Linked DNA regions of Homo sapiens. The protein of the gene in region 1 purifies or fractionates together with the protein of each later gene. This does not show direct contact. Each region holds a gene or a part of one and is shown in the gene's direction. Other genes may lie near its edges. The genes, in order: OR2T10, RAP1A and LETM1.

The links.
Region 2: the proteins of OR2T10 (region 1) and RAP1A purify together in Homo sapiens (affinity purification with mass spectrometry; one large-scale study listed by BioGRID and IntAct). This does not show direct contact.
Region 3: the proteins of OR2T10 (region 1) and LETM1 purify together in Homo sapiens (affinity purification with mass spectrometry; one large-scale study listed by BioGRID and IntAct). This does not show direct contact.

Annotation. Positions count from the first base shown.
Region 1 is NC_000001.11:248,589,865-248,592,458, reverse strand, and holds the end of OR2T10 (olfactory receptor 2T10), read left to right. Parts: 3' UTR 1-1,972; downstream 1,973-2,594. UniProt on the Homo sapiens protein: Odorant receptor.
Region 2 is NC_000001.11:111,696,289-111,699,788, forward strand, and holds part of RAP1A (ras-related protein Rap-1A precursor), read left to right. Parts: intron 1-1,152; coding exon 1,153-1,209; intron 1,210-3,500. UniProt on the Homo sapiens protein: Counteracts the mitogenic function of Ras, at least partly because it can interact with Ras GAPs and RAF in a competitive manner. Together with ITGB1BP1, regulates KRIT1 localization to microtubules and membranes.
Region 3 is NC_000004.12:1,849,542-1,853,278, reverse strand, and holds part of LETM1 (mitochondrial proton/calcium exchanger protein precursor), read left to right. Parts: intron 1-3,737. UniProt on the Homo sapiens protein: Plays an important role in maintenance of mitochondrial morphology and in mediating either calcium or potassium/proton antiport. Mediates proton-dependent calcium efflux from mitochondrion.

The DNA of each region.
Region 1 (2,594 bases):
AGCATCCACTCTGTGCTAAACGCTTTTCGTTCACCACCTCATTCGACCTTCACCCTCTGTGGCTGAGGCTAAGGTCACCCACATTTCACAAATGACAAAACAGCCTTTGAGGCTTCCCCTGACTTGCCCCAAGCAGGGGATCCTCAGGGACAAGGGGGTTCATTCATCCATAGGCATTTGGAGATAAACACATTCAAGACCTCAGAGATGCTAAATGTACAGTTGAGATTTTTCTTCCATCAGAATTTCTAGAATGTGTTCTCAATCAAATTCTTATTTTCTGTGAGCATATAAGAAGTCAAACCTCCCAAAATTAGAGCAGAGACATGGGCTATCCAGTAGACATGGGCTACAACATGTTTGGAGTATAATTGGTTTATTCATAGACTTAACCAGAGAAATATGGAAGTTTCGCACACTTCTCCCTGTTCAAGCCAATGGTGACACATACTTAGAATATAATTTCAAATCACAGTTTTACGTATGTGCATGGTTGTATTTGTATTTAACAAATAACATAATAATTATAACGTCTTGTGTGATTATTATGATCTGGCACCATTTTTAGTGCGTGACATGTATGGAACACTTTTATTTTCACAGCCTATTATTAGCCTTATTCTACAGTTGATTTAACTGAAACCCATGGGTTTGAGTAACATGAACAAAAGGGTGTGCAGCTTATAAAGTGCTCAACAGGGATTTAAGCCCAGGCAGGCAGGCCGGAGTCCCTGCCCCTGACCACTGCATGTGCCACGTCTTGTGGAGTCTGTGGCCTTTTCCACACTGCATTGCCTCTCCCTCTGGGAGGGCCATACTCCAACCTTGGAAACACTATAGTTCTTTCCATACCCAATGTTTTCACGTGGCTTTCCCTCTCTTCGGAATGTTTTTTTATCTGTAAGTACAAGGATACGAAGATAACTTTCCATGACTACATAATCTTCCTTTAGGCCCCAAGTCATTCATTCATTCAACAAATAACTACTGAGCCCCTATAGTTTGCCAGGCCCCGTTCTACAAACTGAGGATACATCAGTGAGCAAAACAAATAAAAATCTTCATCTTTTTTAGCACTTAAAGGGTGTATACAGAAAATAAATTTGGTAATTGAGAAGAAGACATGGAGTATTATCAGAAGAAAAGTGTTGGAAAATCTTGAGCAGGAGAGGGGTCTTGGAGTGTGTAGGGGTCACGTTTTATGTAGGGATTTAGGCTAATCCTCACTGGTTATAGTTGAGCAAAGATGTGGAGTTTACAAGTTAATGAGCCACATTGATATTGGGAGAAATGCTTTCAAGACAGAGCATAGGGACATCTACCAGCCTGTCAATCAAGAGTCCAGTAGGACCATGTCTCAGTAATAGGGATGAACTAGATGTAGATTGAGTCTAACTCCAATTATAAAAAATGATAGTAAAATAAATTTTTCCAACAAACAAAAGTGGATAAAATTCTTCAGCCATAGAAAAATTATCTCAAAAGTAAACTCAGAAATATAAGCAAAAATGACAAACATCAACCCCAAAGAGTAATATGTAAATGAGTCATAATCAATATTGACTTAGCAATAATTTTAATGTAATATACAGTTTAGATTTGTGCAAAACTTAAATGTATGAAAAATCATGTTGAAGATATATCAATATTGATGTAGTAGAGGTAGTAATTTGTGTTAAACTTTAGTAAATCAAGAGTACATGCTGTAATGTTTATAGTAAACGCCAAAACAAGTTTATAAAATGAAAAAATGATAGATTTTTATATTTCTAAAAGAAGCAACGAAAGAATGAAAAAGAGACGTGAAACAGATGGGCCAAATAGAATATGGTTAGAAGTTATAGCTCACATAGAACCCCAATTATATCAGTAATTATTACACATTGCATGCATGTATCAAAATATCACATGTGCCCCATAAGTATGTAGAAATATTATGTATCAATAAAATATGTAATATACTAAATGTTCCAAGTAAAATACTGAGATTATCAGATTATACAATATTATGATTACAGACACCTTAAGTATAAGGATGCAGAGAGACTGAGGCTGTAAGAATGAAAGATGTGGCTCCTCCTGCCAATCACAGCTGCTGGGCCCAGGGTGGTTCCATCCATCCCCCGCCTCACCATGGCTTCCTACAGCCATCGCCAGTTGTCGGGCACATTGTCCTTCCGGGGCCTGGGCGGAGGCTCCGTGCATTCTGGGGCGGGGTCGCCTTCAGCGCAACCAGCATGCACTGGGGCTCCGGCGGCGCGGCGTGTCGGTGTCTTCCGACATTATTTCATACATTATGTACATATATTTCATACATTATGAAATCATGACCACCATCAAGCTCGTTAACATTTCCATCACCTCACAGTTATTTTTTTTTTGGTGTGGTTAGAACACTTAAGATATCCTCTTAACAAATGTCAAGTATACAAGATTTATTCTCTTAACAGATGTCAAGTATACAAGACAATATTGCTAACTATAGTCACCATGCTGTATATTAGCCCTCTAGAAATTATTCACTTTTGCATGACTGAACTTTGTAGCATTTGACCAGTCTTTATTCGTTTCCCTAAACTCCTCACGGGGGACCA
Region 2 (3,500 bases), about 140 Mb from region 1:
AGACATTTTTAGAATTTACCTTTAATAGTGCTGTAACTTTTGTTGAATTAATTTGTTAGTTCATGAAGGACTACTAGTAGAGCAGTTTCATTGTCTTCAAATTGGAAACAGAATTATGCTCTAGATACATCAAGAAACTATAGTCCTAATTGATTATTCACTGAACATTCCCAGTTACAAATTTTGCAGATTATCACACTTGTCCCATAAGTGGTGGGGTGGATGAGTTTGTGGTCTGACCAGTGGTGCCCCTCATCAATGTCTGATCTGACACAGAAGCAGAGTTTAAAATAGTCTTTAGGTTAGCACATTTATTTTTAGAAGACAGTGTTGCTCTACTGAAATTTCCCCAAAGTAAGTTGCTAGTTAAAGCTTTAACTGCAAAGCAAGATCTGTACCTAAAATTCTAAGGGACTAACTTTTCTTAATCCCTTCTTTATTAAAACAGTTTTCCACACAGTTGATAGTTGATACTTTCATTAGACCAACCTTCTTTTCTTTTATAAGACCAATGGGTAAATAGAACTCAGTGTATAAAATTTCACCTTTCACATAGAGCTTTTCTAGAAAAGTGCCTTTTTCTTGAGGCACTGTTTTAGCTCATTGCTGTTTATTTTAGTACTCCTGTGTTTCTTTTATGTCTTAAACTCAGATTTTACTGTGTATTTAATTTTCTGCATATTTTAGTAAAATTTTAACAACTTGAACATGGTAAGTTGGCAAGATTTTCTTTACCCCAAAATGTTGTGCGCATTTTGAGCCATTTAATATTTTTGTACTTTGTTTTCTTTGGAGATAATATAAATACACATATGTACTTTTTTTTCTGTTAGAACTATACTTGTTCGTTGAAGTTTTCCTTAAATTTCAAAATATGACTTTTGCCTTTTCTAATAACAAATAAGAATCGTTACAGAGGTCAGAAAATATCTAAACTCAGCATTAACCATCTTGGCTTCTGTAATATGAATAGACTGTACTTGAGACCGCTGTTCTTTATTGTGGTACCAAGTTTACCCCCAGCCATTACAGCATACTGCTGGAGACAGGCTTTGTATTTGTTAATAGTTACTTTGATGGAAGAGGTGGGAAGAAAACAGAATGAGATTTTGATGTTACTCTTTAACCTTTTTTTTTTTTTTGCCCCCACAGCAAGTTGAAGTCGATTGCCAACAGTGTATGCTCGAAATCCTGGATACTGCAGGGACAGTAAGGATGTTTTCTCTTTTTTTGATAGATTTTAATTTGTGAGCAGGTTTTGTCATCTGAGTAGGTTTTGTCATCCAGATAATTCTGAGTAAAAGTAATCATTCTGATTAAGAAGAAATTCTCTGAACATAGGGATTCTTAAGTATATGAAATCAACTCTGATGTAGTTCATGCTCACATATCACAAAGTTCACCTGTAATAATCTGTGTGTTGGGTTTCTTCCTACATTGAGGTAAGGATTATGCTGTCAGTGATTTTTTAAAATTTATTTTAAATTTAGAGCTTTAGTTAATATTTGTATTTCTATGGGTTTAAATAAGACCTTGTCTCTTGGCACCATAGTCATTAATTTTTATAATTTTTTCTTTTCACTAGCATTTTGACATCTCAAGGGGCTGGTGACAGATACATGTTTTCTGAGGAAGGCAAAAATCTTCCTCAGAAGATTTAGAATTATTTTGAGCCTCCTTTTTCTAATCTTTAAATGAGTATAATGATGTTAGTACATCATAAGGTGTTTGTGATAAGCAAATGAGTTAATAATTATAAATCATTAGGCATAATGTCTGTTACACAGTATGGAATTGTGTATTTGCTTTTATTCTTCTTCATTAATACCATCACCTTTATAATTTTTATTAATAACTGATGGTTTCCAGTTATACTGCCACATAAAATACATACATTAAGCAATCTTTGCTTTTCTTTGTTTATTTTTCTCCATGCACATAGACTTGACACATTAGGCAATTCTTAGCTTTAAAATGGATGGGTTCGTTTTTTGTTTTGCTTAAGAGACGAGGTCTTGCTCTGTCACCTAGGCTAGGGTGTAGTGGTGCAATCATAGTTCACCGCAGTCTCCTGGGCTCAAACAGTCTTCCTGCCTCAGCCTCCTGGGTAGCTAGAATTAAAGGCACGTACCACCACCCCCAGCTAATAAAAAAATTTTTTTTGTAGAGGTGGTTTCGCTGTGTTGCCCAGGCTAATCTCGAACTCCTGACCTCAAGTGTTCTTCCTGGCTCTGCTTCTGAAAGTGCTGGGATTATAGGTGTGAGCCATGGCACCTGGCTGGCATTTTTAAATGTGATAAGTTGTTTAAAATTCAGCACAAAGTTTTCCACTATAATTTTTATAAATGATGGAAACATTTCAGATAGTTCAAAAAAGCATGTAAGCAAATTGGAGTGATTTTATACAACAATATAGTACTAATTATACTGTATTTTTCCATTCTTTTTTGGGAAAATGGCTTAACTCTTATCAGGGACCTTTGCCCTCACAACAAGCTTCTGGTAAAGACCTTCTGAAACTACATTTTCTATCAGCTGAATCAAGCTATCTCTCCCTCTCCCACCCTCCTGCTCTCTAATGTTTTTAGCTTCTGAATCAGCAGAATTCCCCTTTGTTTCCAGAGACCCTAATAGCTAAAATGAATACTTTCTGCTTTTTTTTTTTTTAAATCACATCCACAGTGTACGGGCATTCTTCTTTCTCTGTCCAGATTGTAAGAAGGAAGTTCTCTATCACAGAGATCTTTACTTTGTGCTATCCAATATCGTGTCTGTCTCCCATCTAGCACTCAACACGCTGTGTTATAAGGCCTATTTGCTTGTTTGTGTCCCCAGTACCTTGCATAAAACCTTACAAACAGCTGCATAATCTTGTCTCAAAATCACTCCTTACACTTTGAAGATTTTTGCTTTCTCTCTTTCACATACACTGATTCAATCAGAATTCTTAGTGATTTTACTATCCATATAGAATCTATATGGATATTATAAATGATTTACTACCCTGGCTTGGCCTGTCATTTCCTTGATGTCCATCCTACCTTTAAGGCATTCATACCATGGTTTTACTCTAGGCTATGTGATTACCAATAAGTATAATACCTCTCTAATCTAATTTCCAAGCATCTTATCCTCCATTACTCACTACTTTTTTCTTTATCCATCTCACTTCCTCTTTTTTTTTTTTTTTTGAAACAGGGTCTCTCTCTGTCACCCAGGCTGGAGTGCAGTGGTGTGAACACAGATCACTGCAGCTTCAACCTCCCAGGGTCAAGAAATCCTCCCACCATAACCTCCTGAGGAGCTGGTGCTACTGCAGGTGCATACCACCACACCTAGCTTTTTTTTTTTTTTAATTTTTTGTAGAGACAGGGTCTCACTATATTGTCCAAGCTGGTCTTGAACTGGACTCAAGGGATCCTCCTGTCTTTGGCCTCCCAAAGTGCTGGGATAACAGGTGTGAGCCACTGCACCCAGGCCATCTCATTTCCTTTAGTGCC
Region 3 (3,737 bases), on another chromosome or scaffold:
GCAGGGCTGACTCCAAGGGCTGTGTGGGAGAGGGGGCCTCTGGCCTGAGCCGCCTGGGGACAACAGTGAGGGCTGTGTGGGAGAGGTGGCCTCTGGCCTGAGCCGCCTGGGGACAACAGTGCCATTTGTTGAAACTGGGGAGGACTTGGGGAGGAGCAGAATGAGGAGGGGCGCTAGTTGAGAGTTCTTGGAGGTGTGGACTGTGCCGTGCCCATCAGACCTGTGGGGCGTGTGTATTCAAGTCAGGGAAGAGATTGCCTGGGGAGGAGGTGGAGGTCAGGTAGGGAGGCTCTCCCAGGAGTGGCAAGGGTGAAGCCAGGTGAAGAAAGGTTTGTTTGTTCTTTGACCTGATCCTGGCACCAGCACTGAGGGCTGAGAACCCTGGAAGTTTCCTGAATGATGGGAGTGTCTTTTTTCATTTGTTTGTATTTTGAGACAGGGTCTTGCTCTGTCACCCAGGCTGGAGTGCAGTAGCTTGATCATGGCTCACCACAGCCTCCAAGCGATCCTCCTGCCAGCTGATGTTTTAACATTTTTGTAGACAGGGTCTCTGTTGCTCAGGCTTAACTCCTGAGCTCAACAGCGATCCACCTGCCTTGGCCTCCCAAAGTGCTAGGATTACAGGCGTGAGTTTGGGAGTGTCTTCTGTTATTCGTTATCACTGCACCTGAGTTTATGCTGATGAGGTGACTCCAGGCAGGCCCTTAGATAGATTGAGGTGCTGGCCATGCTGTGATTAGAGGGTGGGAACTTCCTGCCCCTTCCAGGGAGGCGAGAGGGTTTGGAGATTTAGTTCAGTCCCCATGGCCAGTGGGCCAATACTGTAATCAGTCATGAAGCCTTGATGAGAACTTCTGGGTGAGGAGGCTGGTGAGGCTTCCCACTGGCGTCCACCTAGCTCCACAGGACAAAGGATCCTGTGCTCGGGACCTCCCTGGCCATGCTGTCTGGTTGTTCCTAGGTACCAGGTACCCTTTATAATAAACTGTGACAGTAAGTAGAGCCCATTGCTGACATCTGAGTCATTCTTGTGAATGATCAAAACCAAGGCGGTCATGGGAACCCTCAAATGTGTGGTCAGCTGAAGTTGGGTAAGCCTGGGCACATGGAGTGGGGGCAGTCTTGTGGGACTGAGCCCGTACCCTGTGAGGTCTGCACTAACTCTGGGTAGTGTCAGTATGGAATTAAATTGTTGGACTCCCAGTTGGAGAATTCGTTGGTGTTGGAAAAAAGAACAGAAGGGCTCCCAGCAGGGCCTGGGCACAGATGACACCTGTGCTCGTGAGGGACGTGGAGCAATGATCCCCATCACCCCGAACGGCCTTGACTGGGGGTTCCTTGGAGAGCTGGGGACAGAAGCCGTCAGAACAGGTTTTGGGGAGAGCCTAGTAAGGGAGCCAGTGGGACAGGCAGTGTTAGAGAGAAGGTAGGGTCACTGGGGGACAGATCAGGGAACTCTGGGAGACCTGCCAGCCTGCCTGCTTGCCGGGCGGAGCCCTTGAGGCACAGGAGCTGGCCGGGGCAGGGGTGGAGGGGCTGAAGGTGCCATGGTGTGGGGAGGATAGCGGAGAATGCGCTGGGCCCTCTTCATGTGGAGAAAGGTGGGGGCCAAAGCTAGTCTCAGCTGGAGTGAGAAGGGCCTTGGCATGCTCACGTGTGCTGTGCTTTGAATTTTAACTTAAAATGTAACTTGCTGTGTATGAGAACATAGCCAACATTTTCCCCTTAACCCAGCTCCCAGTTCACAGACCGGACTGTTACAAGCCCTAAATGTGGCACGTAGTAGGAATTTCCTTCCCCACAGAACCAGGAGAGTTGCCTCCTGTTAAATGAGGTGAAGTGACGTATCGGTCCACTAGGAGCAGGGTCAGTGCCTGCCCTCCCCATCTTGTTCGTCCTCTCACGGTGGCTCTCGTTGCCGGCTGGAGTGAGCTCCCCCCATCTTAAAGCTGCACTTGCTGCTCCCTGGCTGTTGACTCATTGCAACCCCACTGCTTGGAGGTTCAAGGTCACTGGGCATCTCAGGGTGCTACCTGCTGGCTCCCGGCACCGCCTAGCCTCTGCACAGCCTGGCCTGGCACCTCCGTGGGCTGGTGCCTCTGGCCCTGCTGCTCCTATTCCTGTCTTGTTCCCAGCATGAAGTTTGATCACAATGGGCTCTGAATGTCAGTAATACGAATGAACTCTGACTTTATGCTTATAGGAACTAGAGCAAGTTAGGGAAAGCATCAAAAACATGTTGAAATCCTAAAAATGTGCTGTACACTTATCACTGTTGTTTATACAAGAAATGGCTTACTCTTGGTGTTTTTGTGGTTCTTCTCTTTTTTTTTTTTTTTTTGAGTGCAATGGCGCGATCTCAGCTCACTGCAACCTCTGCCTCCCGGAGGGTTCAGGTGATTATCCTGCCTCAGCCTCCCGAGTAGCTGGGATTACAGGCACCTGCCATCATGTCCGGCTAATTTTTTTTTATTTTTGTGGAGATGGGGTTTCACCATGTGGGCCAGGCTGGTCTTGAACTCCTGACCTCAGGTGATCCACCCGCCTCAGCCTCCCAAAGTGCTGGGATTACAGGCGTGAGCCACCATGCCCGGCCTGTGGTTCTAGTAATTCTTTTTTTTTTTTTTTTTTTTTCTGAGACAGAGTCTTGCTCTGTCGCCCAGGCTGCAGTTCAGTGGTGCGATCTCAGCTCACTGCAAGCTCCGCCTCCCGGGTTCACGTCTGTGCTGGGATTACAGGCGTGAGCCACTGCGCCCGGTCCGGTTGTAGTAATTCTTACAGCTCTTGCCCCTTGGGATCATTGCTTGCTCTATAGGGCTGTCTGCATAGAGGTCATGTTTCCACCAGAGCCAGCTGAAGTGAGTGGGGATGGTGCCACCGGTAGGAGTGCTCCCTCCCTAGGGCTGGCCTGCTTGGCTTCCCTCTTGGGGTGTCTGGAGTCAGGATCTACTTGAGGCTTCCCATCTTTTTTTAGGACTACTTTGAGATACTGTTTTCATAACTGGGGCAGACCCTTCACTTAGCAGTGCTCTGAAACCTTCCAACACTCAGAACTGGCTTCCAGAAACTTACAGAGGTTTCTACAAAAGAGATCTGTACTCTTTCAGATTTTTTTTTTCTTTTTGAGACGGAGTTTCACTCTTGTTGCCCAGGCTGGAGTGCAATGGTGCGATCTCAGCTCACTGCAACCTTTGCCTCCCAGGTTCAAGCTATTCTCCTGACTCAGCCTCCCAAGTAGCTGGGTTTACAAGCATGTGCCACCATACCCGGCTAATTTTGTATTTTTAGTAGGGATGAGGTTTCACCGCTGGTCAAGCTGGTCTTGAACTCCTGGCCTCAGGTGATCCACTCGCCTTTGCCTCCCAAAGTGCTGGGATTACAGGCGTGAGCCACGGCGCCCCGCCTTCTTTCAGACTTAAAAGAAGGTTTCAGGCTGGGAGTGGTGGCTCACGCCTGTAATCCCAACACTTTGGGAGACCAATGCAGGAGGGTCGCTCGAGGCCAAAAGTTGGAGACCAGCCTAGGCAACAAAACGAAACCCCGTCTTTACAAAAATTAGCCTGGCCTGATGGTGCACACCTGTAGTCCCAGCTACTTGGGAGGCTGAGGCAAAAGGATCCCTTGAGCCCAGGAGTTCAAGGCTGCAGGGAGCCGTGACTGTACCACTGCATTCCAGCCTGGGCAAAGTCAAATAAATCAAAATGAACAAAAGGCTGAGCACGGTGGCTCATGCCTGT